Regions from separate parts of the Homo sapiens genome. Here region 1 is linked to region 2. Evidence: fine-mapped expression QTL. Tissue or cell type: stomach. Region 2 holds a variant in brackets; the other region holds the start of a gene. All regions are shown on one strand. Distances are between the middles of the regions.

Region 1 (8,348 bases), 79 kb before region 2:
AAGATACAAATTTTTATATTTTGTCTATTCTTCATATTTAAAGCAGTTCTATAAAATTAGACAGAAGAAAATGGGCCACAATGCTTTATGCTTTAAGCATTTTCCACGATTTGTACATGTGACTTTTATATTCAGAATTATCAACAAATATTACTTAAAAAAACCCTATGTTAAAGCAGGAGCTAAATGCCTCTGTAATTATCCCACAAACCACTGGGTCCTAATCTGCAATGATCTGGAAAATCAACCCTTACACATATAACCATAATATCAATTCAAATTTTTGCTTAAGGCTTCACTGGATGGCTGTATTTTAGTGCTATGAGAGCAACTTTCTTTTCTGCTTTTCTTTAGAAAGTTTGTTTTTACCTTTTTTACATGGCAAGGCCCGTCCTTGGTCTGTGCATAGTAAATGCAGTAAAGTGGTAGCAATGGCCTTCACTGGGCTATGGTTTTGTGGGAAATGATTTTAATTAAGTAAAGAGAAAGCACAGGACATGCTATTTTAAGATTAGGGAACATTTCTTAAAATGTGGCCCTGAAATATTTTGCATCAGTGTAACCTCTGATACTTGCTAAAATGCAGATTTCCCAGCCTACTAAATCAGAATCCTAGGATGGGCCCCAGTAATGTATATTTTTAAAGATAAATCCCAGGTTATTCTCCTGAGATTCTCTAAGAATCATCAGCTGGGGAGGTTTGAGGTTTAGAAATTCTTGCACGGGATCTGAATGCTCCAATGTTAATAAGTAGAATTAGAACTGTTTTTCAATTGCATAAACACAAAATACAAAACACTTTGCTTCTTAGATAAATCAGAATTGGAGGATGGGGCCTACCTACTGCTGTACTGTAATCTTGTTAAAGAGTTTTACATTTGGGAATTTATTGAAAGAGCAGATACCAGTGGTCAGTAACATTGCTAGGAATAGTGGTAGGGTGAGTGTATAGGTGATTTACTCTGGCTAGAAAACAGCTGTCACAAGTTCCATTTCTTCTGGGATATCCTTTAAGGTGGAATGCTTGGCAAAATCAATGTACATCAGAGTCCATAACTCATAATGAAATAGGCTTCCATGGGGAACTGTTGTACCCTGAAGCATGAGCACTAAGTCAGATACACTTGTCACTATGTGGTACGGTCTGATTGTTTGTGTCCCTCAAAATTTATATGTTGAAACTGAGTCCCCGAGGTGATGGTATTAGGAGGTGAGGACTTTGGGAGGTGATTGGCCATGAGAGTGGAGCCCTCATAAACGATATTAGTGCCATTAATAGAAGTTCTACAGAGCTGCTTTGCCCCTTTTACCATGTAAGGTCACAGTCAGAAAGTCCTATCTATGAGGAAACACACCTTTACTAGGCACTAAATCTGCTAGCAACTTGGTCTTGGACTTCACAGCCTCCATAACTGCGACCAATAAATTCCTGTTATTTGTGAGTTACTCAATATATGGTATTTTGTTATAGCAGCACAAGTGAACTGTGACACTATGTGTCTGGAAGATGTGAACAACTTGAGAACTTAGGTTTTTCTTAGGTACAACGGAGATAATACTAGTACCAGATTAGTGATGAAAAATGTTATGCAAAATATTTAGCACAAGCCATGTTATGTAATAAGTACTTCTAAGTGTTTACAGTGACGACTTCACAAAAGCCTGGCTGTAAAAGTTTGGGAAGTCAGGCTTCTCTGGTTGGCTTGGAAGACCATGTTAGTTATCAGACAAGCCAGGGATTTTGAGTAACCCCAATTCTTGAGGGGAAGAAAGTAGAGTGGAAGAGGAGCCAAAATTACTAATAGTCCTTCATCTGAGCTAGATTTTTGATATCTGTTGGTTTTGTGGAAAATCCAAACCTAATGTCTTTTATTGAAATTCCCCATCTCGTGGATGGTCTAGGACTGAATTGAGTTATGTAAAATATCATTTGTGGAGTGATATTCATTTGTATACCTTTTCAGTTCGAAACAGTCAAAAGTCTCTCTCTCTCTCTCTCTCTCTCTCTCACACACACACACACACACACACACACACACGTACACACCCACACACAGCCTTAACCCTGGCCACCTCTATACTATTTCTGGAATCCCAGATTCTATAAAACTATTTTAGTTTCTAACAAATGTCTTGGTCTTTATGATGGTCACCACCATGAAACACAGTTACTTTACACTTTCTTGCCTTGTTCATAAATATTCCCCAAGTAAAATTACTTGCTACACTTTTCCCATTTAAATTTGCATTGGCTAAGTGAGAGACATCTCTACAGATTGCTCAATTTTAGGAAAATAACCATTCCCAAGAAACACAAACAAGTCAAATCAAGATAGTTACCAGGAGCAATTCTTTATATTATCCAGTTGCACAACACACTTCTTGAATAAATGACATATCCTAATTTAGGATACATCACCAGATTCAAGTCAGAGAGTATCCTGTGCCAGTCAATAAGAGTGCGGGTCACTGGAAGATCCCTTCGTAGAATTTTTCTCAGGGCTTCATTGGATAACTCCTGTAATTCTTCCAAGACTGCAGCTTGAAATTTGTTCTCTTGCTCTTCCACAAGCCTTGCAAAACTTAGAGCCAGTTGAGCTTGGTTAACTATTTCCAAGCTTTCTTTCAGGTCCTTGGATATTTCAATATGAAGGTTGACACACCTGAAGAAGTGAGCTTGCACAAATATTCTTCCCGTTACTTGGGTTAGAAATGGGTTAACTTGGAAAATCCATTTAGATTTCCAAAGTCCGTTCCAGCACTCTCCTGTTTCATAGTTGTGATCTTCAATGCAAGCTATCAAGTACTCCTTACTTTTGACAGTTTTTCTCAGCATGTTGCAATTTCCTTTTGGATAGTGGTCATTCACATACAGTTTTAAGGCGCACAGAAGAACAACTCTCAGGTATTCTGCCTCATTCTGAATGATACCATGACTTTGGATGTCTTTCAGCTGATTTTGAAGCAGGTCATATTTGAAAGAAAGTTTGCTTTGATGGTCAAAAAATCGGTAGTCGCCCATTACATTGTGGTGAGACAAGAGTACTGGATTTCCATCGATGCAGAGTGGTACAGAATATTTTTGGCAGTGTTGGTGGCCTGCACACTCACCTTGGTGGTGCATAAGTTTTTCATCACGGATAAGCAGACAGAGATCATCAAAGGCATTTACAAATTCCCCTGGAGGGGCCTGTAATAACAGTCTGCGAATTACTCTTTCCTTGTCCTTCCTGCTCAGCACGCTAAGTGTCATGTTTGGTTGCAACAGAAGCAAAGCTTCTGAAATGAGGAGTGTTCAAAGGATAAGAAAACATTCCATGAGCCACCTTTCCCATCAAGGTGTTAACATTCAAGCTGAAGGTTTTTATGTCTATCCATGAAAGCAGGCAGTCTGGCAAGGTCTGAGCCTCCTGATGAGGTCATAAGAAGCTTTCCTTGTGAAGTGTGGAACCTCTGATGATATCACAATGGGAATTCAGACCAAAAGGAAAAAATGACAGTCACCTGACAGTGTGGTGCCCAGCCAACCAGCTATACCTCTTTTGAAGATTTTAAGAACTTAGCCTCCTGAACAGTCTTCTTCGAAAGTGGTGTGTCTCTGTGTGCATTATATGTTGTCAACGATCTAGAGAAGCAGCCCAAAGTTTCAAGAGTGACAGCACTTTGCAACTTCAGGAATCACAATGGTGTTGATTTATACTCAGGCTCTCAGAGTAGCTGCCCAAACCCACTGGAAGCATATTATGATGAAAGGTTTGAGGGGTTTAAACAAAGTAGTAAAAAATAAAAGGAGATACAATGGCAGTTCATGGAAAAATGCCAGACATCAGGGAAAGCTGTGTTTTCAAATATTGTGGGTTTGGAGGTGGTCAGAACGTAAGAAGCCAAACAGTTTCAAGGGCAGGGTAGTGCAGGTACCACATCTTGCATACTGTTTCTATGGTTAAGTGTGAGCTAGCTTCAAAGAACGAAGGCAAAAAAAACCACTGTGTGTTCTCTGCTTTCTCCCTAGAAAAGTGGTAACAGCTGATGAGTATCAAGAAATTATTTTCTGCAAAGGGGCAGAGTTAATTGTATTTGGAACCCATGACAGCACCTACTGGGGAAAGACTTCTAAGTGAGGAGAAACGGCTCTACAGGTCATGAAACTATGGAAATGAGATATCCATTGAGAGCTTCTTTCTGCTCCTCTTCTTCTTTCTCCTACTTATCCTCTTTACTTGATGCTGTTATTCTTTTCGAGGAGTTCTGAATTTAAGTCCTCTTCATTTAAGTTGAACTGCTTTTCCCTGTTTGTTCTGAGCTTTTCTAACTTTCCCTGCATTCTGGTATCTTTTTCTTACAAGAACATGAGCTTTGCTGGATTAAGTCATAACTATTAAATTTAAGGAGATCTCATTAATTCGTTCTAACAATCTGAAACTTAGTAGTTTTGCACAATTTTTACCTATACCTTTTATAATTTTAGTGATAATTGTCATTATCTCATTTCGATCTTAGTTTTTCAAATGGAAGTGTCCTAGTTTTTGTAGTTTATCTATGATAAGTAAGCTTTTAAAAATTTTTTTCGTTTTTCATACCAAATATACACTCACCATGGTATTTCTGATGCTTTTTGATGGTACTGTCTTGAGTGTGTGTGTAGCTGGGCATTGGACTAATGTAGTAATAATAACTTTATCAGTCATGGTTACTATTTATTGAACACTAAGTAGCAGAAACTGTGTTCGGTGGCATATTAGGAATTCATCTAATGCTTCCACTTTCCTTAAGATTCAGGGTTAATTTGCTCACCTTTCTGGAAGAGAGAACTAAAACAGAGAGGTCAGGTGAGAGGCGATCTTGAAGTCTAGCTGCCTTCCAACTTCATGCCTTCAGGCAATAGATTGTTATAATGTTTTAATGTATGTTCTAAGTAATGACTTCAATTCTCAAATTTTAACTTTAATTCTTTTTTTTGTATTTTTACTGTGCTATGCCCTTTCATACCTTTACCATAGCATAGTAACTACTTAATTTTGTTTTTTAAAAAATATTTATCATACAATTATACTATAATTTACTTTAAACATATTCTTTAAAAATAAAAATAATACAGTAAATCAAATGTTTCTTTAGGAATTTTAAATATTCAATGACTTTCTGTGAGAATTTCCTTAACTTTTTTGTGCTTCTACATGGTTTTTGTCAAAGATTCAGGATGACTTCAGAGGTGGAAAAATTAACCTAGAAAAAACTCAGAGGTTACTTGAAAAATTAGATATTCGGTGCAGTTATATTCATGTGAAACAGATTTTTAAGGTAAGATGACATCCACCCCCTGCCTATCCTATCCTAGGTGGAACTTAATCCAATGTCAGTAATTGTCATATAAAGGTTAGTCTCTTAAGAAGAAAAGCAATTAATTATACTAACTATATTTACAATCAAGATGGAGAGCATTTCAGTAGAAGGTAAAATTAGTTGTTGAGAAAATCTGAAATAATACCAGGATATCAGTTTAGAATAATTTCCTGAGCATACAGAAATGCTAACATTAAACCTAGGATTGGATGTCTAATTATATCAGACTGATAATGGTAACTGTATTAGATGTTAGTGATTTATAAAAAGAGTGGAGAATAAGCCCAAAGTTAGCAGAAGGGAGGAAATAATACAGATTAGCACAGAAATAACTAAAATAGAAAAGAAAAAAATTAGAAGAAATTGAGGAAACTAAGACTTGTTTTTTTGAAAAGTTAAATAAAATTGACAAATACTTAGAGTAAGAAAAAAGAGAGAGGAGTCAAATAAAATCAGAAATGAAAGTGGAGACATTACAACAGATCTCACAAAAATGAAAAACACATAGAGCAATCATACACCATAAAATTGGACAATCTAGAAAAAAAAGGGAAATTTCAAGAACCATATAACCCATCAAGACTGAACCAAGAAGAACTAGAAAGGTTAAACAGACCAATAACAAAAAGGAGACTGAGAGGCTGTGTGCAGTGATTTGTACCTGTAATCCCAATGCTTTGAGAGGCCAAGGTGGGAGGATCACTTGGGGCTAGGAGTTTGAGACCAGCCTGGGTAACATAGTGAGACCCTGTTTGGAGACTTAATCAGTAATCAAAAACTGCCCAACGAAGAAAAGCCCAGGACCAAATGACTTCACAGGTGAATTCTACCAAAGATTTAAAGAAGAATTAATACCAATCCTTCTGAAATGCTTCTAAAAAATAGAAGAGGGAACACTTCCAGTTTTATTTTATAAGGTCAACATCATCTGGATACCAAAGCTGGACAAAGGCACCACAAGAAAACAAAACTTTAGGCCAATATTCCTGATGAACATAGATGCAAAATTCCCCAACAAAATAATAGCAAATCAAATTTATAGCACTTTAAAAGGATCATATTCCATGACCAAATAATATGTGTCCCTGGCATGCAAGGATGGCTCAACATACAGAAATCAATCAATGTGATACACCACATTAACAGAATGGAGATAAAAATCACATGATTATCTCAAAAATATAGAAAAAGCATGTGACAAAATTTAACTCCCTTTCATGATAACTCTCAGTAAATTAAGTATAAAAGGAACTTAACACATTAAAGTCCATATATGAAAAGCTTACAGCTAATATCATATAAAATAAACTGAAAAGATTTTTTTCTAAGATCTGGGAAAAGGCAAGGATGCCCACTCTCACCACTTCTGTTCAAGATGGTACTGGAAATCCTAGCCAAAGCAATTAGTCAAGAAATGAAAATAAAAGGCAATTAAATTAAAAAGGCAGAAGCAAAATTATCTCTATTCACTGATGGCACAATCTTACATGTAGAAACTCCTGAAGATTTTGTTAACAAACTACCACAAGGCCGGGTGTGGTGGCTCATGCCTGTAATCACAGCACTTTGGGAGGCTGAGGCAGGTGCATCACCTGAGGTCAGGAGTTCGAGGCCAGCCTGGCCAATGTGTTGAAACCTCGTCTCTACTAAAAACACAAAAATTAGCCAGACGTGGTAGTGCACGCCTGTAATTCCAGCTACTCAGGAGGCTGAGGCACGAGAATTGCTTGAACCTGGGAGGCAGAGGTTGCAGTGAGCTGAGATTGCGCCACTGCACTTCAGCCTGGGCAACAGAGCGAGAGTCCTCAAAACAACAACAACAACAACAACAACAAAAACAACTACTAGAACTATTAAATTCAGTAAAGTTGCAAGATACAAAATTACTATGTAAAAATGTGTTGCATTTCTATTCATTAACTATGTACTATCCAGAAAGAAATCAAGAAAACATTTTCATTTACACTAGCATTAAAAAATATATAATGCTTAGGAATAAATTTAACCAAGGAAGTGAAAAACTGGCACACCAAAACTGTAAACCACTGATGAAATAAACTTTAAAAGTTACAAATAAACAGAAACACATCCCATGTTAATATATCCATACTACCCAAGGTGATCTATAGATTCAATGTAATCCCTACTAAAATCCCAATGGCATTTTTGTTTTGTTTTCACAGAAACAGAAGAAACAATCCTAAAATTCATATTGGAATCAAAAAAGACCCTGAATAACCAAAACCAATCTTAAAAAAGAAATATAAAGGTGGAGGCATCACAATTTTTGGTTTCCAAATGTATTTAAAATACTTCAGTAATTGAGGCAGTATGGTAGGGGCATAAAAACAAATATGTAGACTAATGGAACAGAATAGAGAGCCCAGAAATAAACCCCTTCATATATAGTCAACTGATCTTCTACAAAGGTACTAAAATACATAATGGGGAAAGGATAGTCTCTCCAATAAATGGCATTGGGAAAACTGGATATTCGCATGTAAAAAATGAAATTGGACTCTAACCTTACCCCATATGCAAAAATCAACTCAAAATCCATTAAAGATTTAAACTTGAGACCTGAAACTATGAAACTCATAGAAGAAAATAGGAAAAAAGCTTTTTGACATTGGGCTTGGCAAGAATTTCTTAGATATGATTCCAAAGGGATTGAAACAAAGACAGGTAACAAAAACTTGTCTAAAAATAGAAAAGTGGGATTACATGAAACAAAGTGGCTATTGCACAGCAAAGGAAACAATCAACAAAAATGTAAAGCCAATTTACAGAATAAAAGAAAATATTTGCAAGCCACATATCTGATAAGGGATAGTATCCAAAATTGAATCCCACAACTCCATAGAATGGAAACCCCAAGTAACTTGATTAGAAAATGTGCAAAGGGATTGTATAGACATTTCCCTAAAGAAGCTATACAAATGGCCAACAGGTATATAAATAAGTGCTCAACATCACTAATCATCAGGGAAATGCAAATCAAATCA
Region 2 (8,348 bases):
GCATTTTCTGTTTGGTTACCATGGGGATTACATTTAACATGCTAAAGTTATAACTCTCTAATTTGATTTTATAACAGCTTAACTTCAGTAACATATGAGATTCTGCTCCTTTACAGACTAGACCTCATTTTTCAGTTATTGATGCTTCAAAATTACATCTTTCCACATTGTGGGTCCAGATATATGAACCAATAATTACTTTTAATGCATTAATATCTTAAATAATGTAGAAAACAAAATGTATAGCTGCAGACCAAAGTTACAATAATACAAATTTTTATAATTGTTCATGTATTTACCTTTACTGTGGATCTTTACTTCTTCACAAAGCCTTTTTTTTAAACTGTGTAATGCTCTTTTATTTCAAAGTGTGAGGCCACCTTTAGTATTCCCTGCAGGGTAGATCTAGGGTCATAAATTTCCTCAGCTTTTGTTTATCTGGGATAAACAAAATTTATTTCTCCCTCATTTATTAATTTCTTAATTTCTCCCTCAATTTTGTGTTTTTTAAAAATTGTACTTAAAAACCTTTATGTTTAGAGGTACATGTTCAGGTTTGCTACATAGGTAAGTTGCATGTTGCAGGGGTTTGATGTACAGATTATTTCATCAGCCAGGTGATGAGCATAGTGCCTATGCTATTTAGGTAGCATAGCATAACTACTTAACTCCAGTGGGTGGTTTTTCAATCTTCACCCTCCTTGCACTTTCCATCTTCAAGTAGTCCCAGTGTCTATTGTTCTCATTTTTGTGTCCATGTGTACTCAAGATTTAGTTCCTACTTAATACGGGAGAACACGCAGTATTGGTTTTCTGTTCCTGCGTTAGTTCACTTAGGATAATGGGATAATGGCCCCCAGCTCCATTCATGTTTCTGCAAATGATATGATCTTGTTCTTTTTTTATGGATGTGTAGTATTTCATGGTGTATGTGTACTTCATTTAAAAAAATCCAGTACTACTGTTGATGGGCACATAGGTTGATTCCTATTGTCTTTGCTATTGTGAATATTTCTACAACGGTAGAACAATTTATATTCCTTTGGGTGTGTATCCAATAATGGGATTGCTGGGTCAATGGTAGTTCTAAGTTTTCTGAGAAATCACCAAACTGCTTTCCACAATGGCTGACCTAATTTCTTTCCCACCAGCAGTGTATAAGCATCCCCTTTTCTCCACAGCCTCACCAGCATGTTATTTTTTGACTTTTTAATAATAGCCATTCTGACTGGTGTGAGATGGTCTCTCATCGTGGTTTTGGTTTGCATTTTTCTGATTAATAATGTTGAACATTGTTTTATATTCTTGTTTATCCCTTATTTATGAAGGACAGTTTTGCTAGATACAGGATTCATGGTTGACAGTTGTTTTTCTTTTAGCACTTTAAATATATAATCCTACGAAAAGGCCTTTTTATGTGATGTGTCACTTCTCTCTTGCTGCTTTCAAGATTCTCTCTCTCTCTTTTTTTTTATTTTTGGCAGTAGGATTATAATGTCTTGGTACGGGTCTTTCTGAGTTATCTCATTTGGAGTTCGTTAAACTTCTTGGATGTTTATAATTCTTGTATCTCATCACACTTGGAAATATTTGGGGTACTATTTCTTCAAATAATCCCTTTGCCTCTTTCTCTTCTTGCAGAACTCTTACAATGGATATGTTGGTCTGCTTCATAATATCCTACAGGTTGGTTAGGCTCTGTTCACTTTTCTTAAATCTTTATTGCTATTCCCCAAACTCAGTAATTTCCATTGTTCTGTCCTCAAGTTCATCAATTCTTCTAACTGCTCATATATATACCCTTCAATTCTTCTAGTGAATTTTTGTCTTCAGTTGTACTTTCCAGTTCCAGAATTTCATTTTGGCTTCATTTGGGTTTTCTATATTTTTATTGATCTTTTTATTTTGTTCATGCTTTGTTTTCTTGATTTTCTTTACATCTTCCTTTACTTCTTTGACTATCAATTGTTTTAAACTCTTTGCCTAGTAAATATTTCATCAGGTCTTTCTGAAGGACAGTTTCTGTTGGTTTATTTTTTCCTTTGAATGAGACATACTTTCCTGTTTGTTGGATGCCTTGTGGTTTTTTTGTTGAAAGCTATATATATGAATCTAATAATATCATGTCTCTGGAAATCAGATTCTTCTCCTTTCCCAGAATTTGCTGTATCTGTTCTGTTTTAATTGATATAGGCTTCTCTGTGCCAAGGACCAGCCTGAGGTATAAATCTAAGGTCTTTTCTGGTCATTTCTGAGTCTATACCTTTCTCCGGGCATGCACAGTTACTTTCTAATTTCCTCTATATATGTGGTTGCTTTTAATTTAATGTCCTAGTCTTTAATGTCTGGCTCTCAAAAGGGGAAAAGGAGAAAAACTAAAGGTGCCGAGGCGCTGGCCCTTTAAACCCCCCTGGATCTCACTTCAGCTGGAGAGGGAAGGGCTTGCAACAAAGGAGGAGTTGCAACAAAACTTCCCACCTTTGTCTGTGTCTCTGCCTTTTTGATCAGAGCATCAATCAGATATCAGAACACAGATCCCTGATATTTAATGGACAGTATCCTTATGGCTCCTGCTGGTTTCGGCAAGCTGTGTGCAAGCTGATCCAGAAATACGCAGGAGAATGGGGATGGATAGCCACTGCTGAGTTAAGAGCTGAAATTGACCTAAATGTACTGAAATTTACTATCCAGGTCCTCTCCTGGAAGGTGCAAGCAAGCCTTCAGTAGACTCCAAGATTCCAAAATATTTACCTCAGACAGATTATGTCAGTGTAATTGTTCTGTTGGAGGGGAGATAAATTTTTGGTGCTTCATACTGTGCCATCTTCCCAGAATTCTCTCCAACATTTGTTTTTTACATTTACTTATCTTTAGCAGTGTTCTTTATTTCTCTATGTAAATTTGAGTTAGCCTAGAGTTCTTTTATTTCAGTCCAAAGGACTCCCTTTAGCATTTCTTATAGAGTAAGTCAACTAGCAGTTAACTGTCTCAGTTTTTATCTGGGAGAGTCTTAATTTCTCCTTTATTTTAGCATTAGGTGATATACATAATGCTAAATAACGAGTTAACGGGTGCAGCACACCAATATGGCACGTGTATACATATTTAACAAACCTGCACGTTGTGCACATGTGCCCTAAAACTTAAAGTATAATAATAGTAAAAAAAAAAAAAAAAAGAATGGAGAACTATTCCATAGTAAAGGAGACTTAAGAGGCCTGACACGTAAATGAAATGTGTGATTCTAATGTGGATATCCTTTCACTATAAAATACATTATTGAGACAATTGATAAAACTTGAAGGAAGTCTATGCATTAAATGATAGTTATGTAATTTCCTGATTTTGATCATGGTATTTTGGAGAAGAGAGAGAATATTCTTGTTTATGAAACATCATCTCTAAGTATGCAGGGATGATAGAGTATCAGGTCAGCCGCTTAATCCCAAGTGATTTAGGGAACAAAGAGTTCTTTATCCTCCAGTTACAAGCGTATGGCTGTGGGCAGCTTATTTTGTCTGACTACTTTTGTTTTCTCATCTATTGTACGGGACTAGTGATAGTATTTATCTCTTTGCATTGTTATGAGATTAAATAAGATGGTAAAGGTAAAGTGGTTATTTAGTGCCTAAAGTTGGCTAGTTTTTGAGTACCTTTATATATTAGCTCCAACTATAATATGAGAATTATGGTTACTGTTTATTTTTTACCTTCCTCCTATCTTGGCCCACTTTTAGTGTGTCTTCCCTTCTGCCCTACTGTTTCCTATCCATGTTGGTTTCCTTTCCATAGCAACTCTTGCCTCTCCAATACAAAGCTTCATGCTCCAAAAAGCACTGAGTCATAGAGCATGAGTTATTCCTTGCATGATTATAATATCTTCACCAATAGAAAGAGATAATTTGTGTGAAAGGTAAATGTACAAAAAAAATACAAAAATCTCATTTTTACAGGTTTCATAATGCAAATTTTTTCCATTCAAATAGAATAATTCACTTTAGAACATTTCTGAAGGTGAATTAGATTCTATTGTAGTAAATACCTAAGCTAAAGTATAGCATTCTCTCCCTTTTTACTCTCTGTGAAATAGAATATGTAAAACCTTCTAAAAGAATTTATATGCATAACTCAAGCCATCTATTCCAAATACTTAAAGTTACAGGTC[G/A]GTTATGTATATATGTAAAACTGGTACTTTAATGCTATTATTTATTAAAATATTGATTTTCTATTAAAAAATTCTCCTTTATTTTTCAAAAATAGTTTTTATCAAATATAGATCTCTTGGTTGATGGTCTTTTCTTTTAGCTCTTTGAATATTTCATATGTCTGGCCTCCATGGTCTGTGGTAACAATCAGCCATTAATCTTATTGAGGATTTCTTGTGCATAATGACTTGCTTCTCTCCTGCTGCTTTTACGATTCTTTATCTTTTGCTTTTGACAGTTTGATTATAGCGTGTCTCATTGTGAATCTTGTTATGTTTATCCTACTTAGAGTTTGTTGAGCCTCTTGGATGTAATTCATCAAGTGAATTGATGTTTTGGACCATTATTTCTTTAAATATTCTTTCTGTCCTTTTATCTTTTTATCTCTCTTATCTTCTGGGATGCCTAATATGCAAATGTTAATATACTTGGTGGTATTTCATAGGTCTCTTAGGATCTGTTGATTTTTCTTTATTCCTTTTGTTCCTCAGATTAGGAAATCTCAATGAACTTACTTTCAAGTTTGCTAATTCTTCCCTCTGTCTGCTCAAGTGTACTGCTGAACTTCTTTTGTGAATTTTTCATTTCAGTTGTTATAATTTTTTAATCCAGAATTTTTTTTTGGTTACTTCATAATATGTCTCTTTATTGAAGTTTTCTATTTGAAGTGATATTATTCTAGTGGTTCTCTTCAGTTCTTTGTATGTGGTTTCCTTAAGAGCTTTAAGCATATTTAAATAGTTAATTTAAAGTCTGTCTAGTAAGTCCAATAGATGAGCTTCCTTAGGGATAATTTCTATTACTTTCCTTTTTTTTCTGTGTATGGGCCATACTTTCTTATTATTTGCACACTTCACAATTTTTTGTTGAAGACTGAACATTTTGAATATTATAGTGTGGCAACTCTAGAAATCAGATTCACTTTCTTCCTTGGGGGTTTGTTGTTGCTGCTTATTATAGTAGTTGTTTGTTTAGTGCCTTCTCTGAACTGATTTTTTAAAGTATGTATTCATTGTTGTATCTAGATTCTCTTTTCGGTTAGCTTAGTGGTGTTCAGCTAATGATTTTACAGAGATTTCTTTAAACTACTGGAGCCGAAAACAACAACAAAAAATTAGAAATCTTTCAGCCTTTGCATATGGGCTCTATGTGAATGTTGAGGCATGCCTTCAACACTTCAGCTTGTAAGCTTACTACTCTGCTATAGTCTTCATTTGTGCTTTCATAGAGCCTGAGGGTCAGCCAGTGACAAGAGCTCTGGATCTTCTCAGGTATTTTCTGAATATGATCCCATCCCTGGGCACATATATGGTCATCTAAATCCCAGGTATTTGTGGAAACTTTTCAGAGCCCTTATTCCCCAAAACATCTCATTTCCCAGTCTTTCGCCCCCAGGTTTTTCAGTTAGTAAATTGTTTGTTCCAACTCTATTATTCCTTGTCCCCAGCAGCAGTGGCAAATACATCTGCCTATAAATATTTCAAACAAATTCTCCCTGGGTAGTCACCTCAGCACTGGTAGAGATTTGAGTTCGTTAAAATAAAGACAAACCCTTTGGGCTTGTTTTTTTGGGATCACTAGCCAAGTCAAAACAACCACAATTCTTTGTGGTCAGAATGAGATCTATTTTACTCTCTGTCATATTAGGACCCTATACAAAAAATGTGAGCTGCTGTCATTAGGGCTGCCTTAAAAAGTTGAGCTGGGAGCAGGAGATGGGGCCAAAGTAACTTTAACACCACATCTCTCTTACTGAAATTTAACTCTCTTTTCTTGATTAAGCATTCATTTTGTTGTTGCAAAATTTGATTGGTTTCAATTGTTCTAATAAAGTTGATTCTGACCGTTTCTGCCTGTATAATTGTGTTTTTGTTGTTGTTGTCGTTGTTGTTGCTGTTGTTTGAGACAGGGTCATGCTCTGTCACCCAGGCTGGAGTGCAGTGGCATGATCATAGCTCACTGCTAACTTGAACTCCTGCCTCAAGCAATCCTTCCACCTGAGCTTCCCAAGTAGCTGGGACACCAGGTGCATGTAACCATGCCTGGCTATTTTATTTTATTTTACTTTTTTCAGGACAGAGTCTCGCTCTGTCGCCCAGGCTGGAGTCCAGTGGTGTGATCTTGTCTCACTGCAACCTCCTTCTCCTGGGTTCAAGCAATTCTCTGCCTCAGCCTTCCAAGTAGCTGGGATTACAGGCGCCCGCCACCATGCCCAGCTAATTTTTGTATTTTTAGTAGAGACCATCTTGGCCAGGCTGGTCTTGAACTACTGAGCTCGTGATCCACCCGCCTCAGCCTCCTAAAGTGCTGGGATTACAGGCGTGACCCACTGCGCCCAGCCACCTGGCTAATATTTTTTAATGCTTTTTTGGTATAGACAGGGTCTTGCTATGTTGCCCAGGTTGGTCTCAAACTCCTGAGCTCAAATGATGCTTCCGTCTCAACTTCACAAAGTGCTGGGATTACAGGTGTGAGCCACTGTGCCCAGCATATTTGCTGTTTTTGTGGAAGAATGGAACTTTAGACTTCCCTACTTCACCATTTTTGCTGGTGTCACTCTCCTTTACTAGTATTAACAACTTATATTAGAATTTGTCACAATTGATGAACCAATATTGATATATTGTTATTAGCTAAAGTCCACTTTAATTAAAATTTACTTACTTTTTACCTAATTCAAATTTACTTAGTTTTTCCGTTTCAGGATCCCATCCAGGGTACCACATTACATAGAGTAGTCATGTCTCCTGAAGCTCCTCTTGGCTGTGACAGTTTCTCAGGCATTCTTTGCTTTTTATGATGTTGACAGTTTCAGGAGTACTAGTCAAGTATTTGGTAGAATGTTGTCAATTGGGATTTGTCAGTTCTGATTTTTTTTTTTTTTTTCATGATAAGGTTGGGGCTGTGAGTTTTTGGGAGGAAAACCTCAGAGGTAAAGTGCCACTTTCATCACATCTTGTCAAGGGTACATACTGCCAACACGACTTCCACTGTTGATATTGACCTTCACTACCTGCCTGAGGCAGTATTTGTCAGGGTTTCTCTACTATAAAGTTAATCCCCCAATCCTCTTTTCCATATTATATTCTTCAGGATGACGTCACTATGCATAGCTCATATGTAAGGAATGGGTAGCTATGTTCTACCTTTTATCAGGTGCAACATCTCCATAAATAATTAGGAATTCTGCGTGGATTTTGTTTCTTTCTCCCTACTTATTTATTTATTCATTTATAGCAGTGTGGATTCGTGGATAACTATTTTATACTTCAGGCTATAATTTAATGTTACTTACCCAACTTGTCCCAGCTTTGGCCATTGGGAACTCTTTCAGTTGGCTCCTGTGTCTTTGGGAATATTTTTTTCCTTCAGCTGGAGGACCACTGGAAGCAGGTTCTTTACCTGAAGCTGCAGTTGATGTTTCTGATACATTAGAGTCTAGTGATGATTAATATTTTCACCGTATGATCTCCAAAACCCTTTCTCTTCTTAGCTTTTAAATTTCACAAGTCTTTAACAGTATTTTCCTGTTATGGTCTTTTTCTCAACAAGAAACATCAAAAGCCTCTGGTATTTTTTTTTATTATTGTTTCTGTATACTTTTAAGACTGTTTCGGCTGGGTTTATAACTTTTTATTCAGCTTCTTATATGGGTCTGTTTACTTCTTTATTTCACATAGGGATAACATTGTTTCCCAGAACTAAGTGTCTTTTTTCTTTTTCCTTTCCCTTCACTCTCTGACCAAAACATTTGTTTTTCCAACTTTCCACTCTCAAAATTTTATCTTGAGAATGTCCCACATTAAGAGAGATGAAGTCGGTGAGTTCGATGTTTGTCACTTATCCCTTGTTCAAACAAGTCTTGATTATCTTGATCCTTATGAGTAGGAAAGTCCCATGTAAAAGATAATCTTATCAGACCAAGAGCTGATCCAGACCAAGTACTCAACTGGAATCATCTTGTCTGATTTCCCTTTAATAAGTCCTCTCTTTGCTTTACTTTTACCTGGAATAACAGTTCCACAAATTTTCCAAATATTTTTCCTCAGGGAACACCCGTGGCAATAATTTTGCTCATTTGCAGTTGACACAGATGCGTTTTCATCCTTTATACTGATTTTCCTGGGATTTCGGTCTGAAATC

What was found.
Region 1: PLCZ1 starts here. The variant in region 2 is fine-mapped to the expression of PLCZ1 in stomach (GTEx, PIP 0.95).

The regions. Positions count from the first base shown.
Region 1 is chr12:18,733,174-18,741,521 of GRCh38, reverse strand. PLCZ1 (phospholipase C zeta 1) reads left to right here and starts at 3,510. Exons shown (of 15, transcript NM_033123.4): 1 at 3,510-3,590; 2 at 4,013-4,161; 3 at 5,178-5,301. The coding sequence starts at 4,151. It overlaps CAPZA3 (capping actin protein of muscle Z-line subunit alpha 3), which reads right to left and starts at 3,403. Exons shown (of 1, transcript NM_033328.3): 1 at 2,334-3,403. The coding sequence starts at 3,253. The coding sequence ends at 2,354.
Region 2 is chr12:18,654,494-18,662,841 of GRCh38, reverse strand. It overlaps a transcript of PIK3C2G not described here and a transcript of PLCZ1 not described here. Among named protein-coding and RNA genes, the nearest start is that of PLCZ1, 79 kb to the left of the region's middle. The variant G/A (reference allele first, on the strand shown) is at 4,166.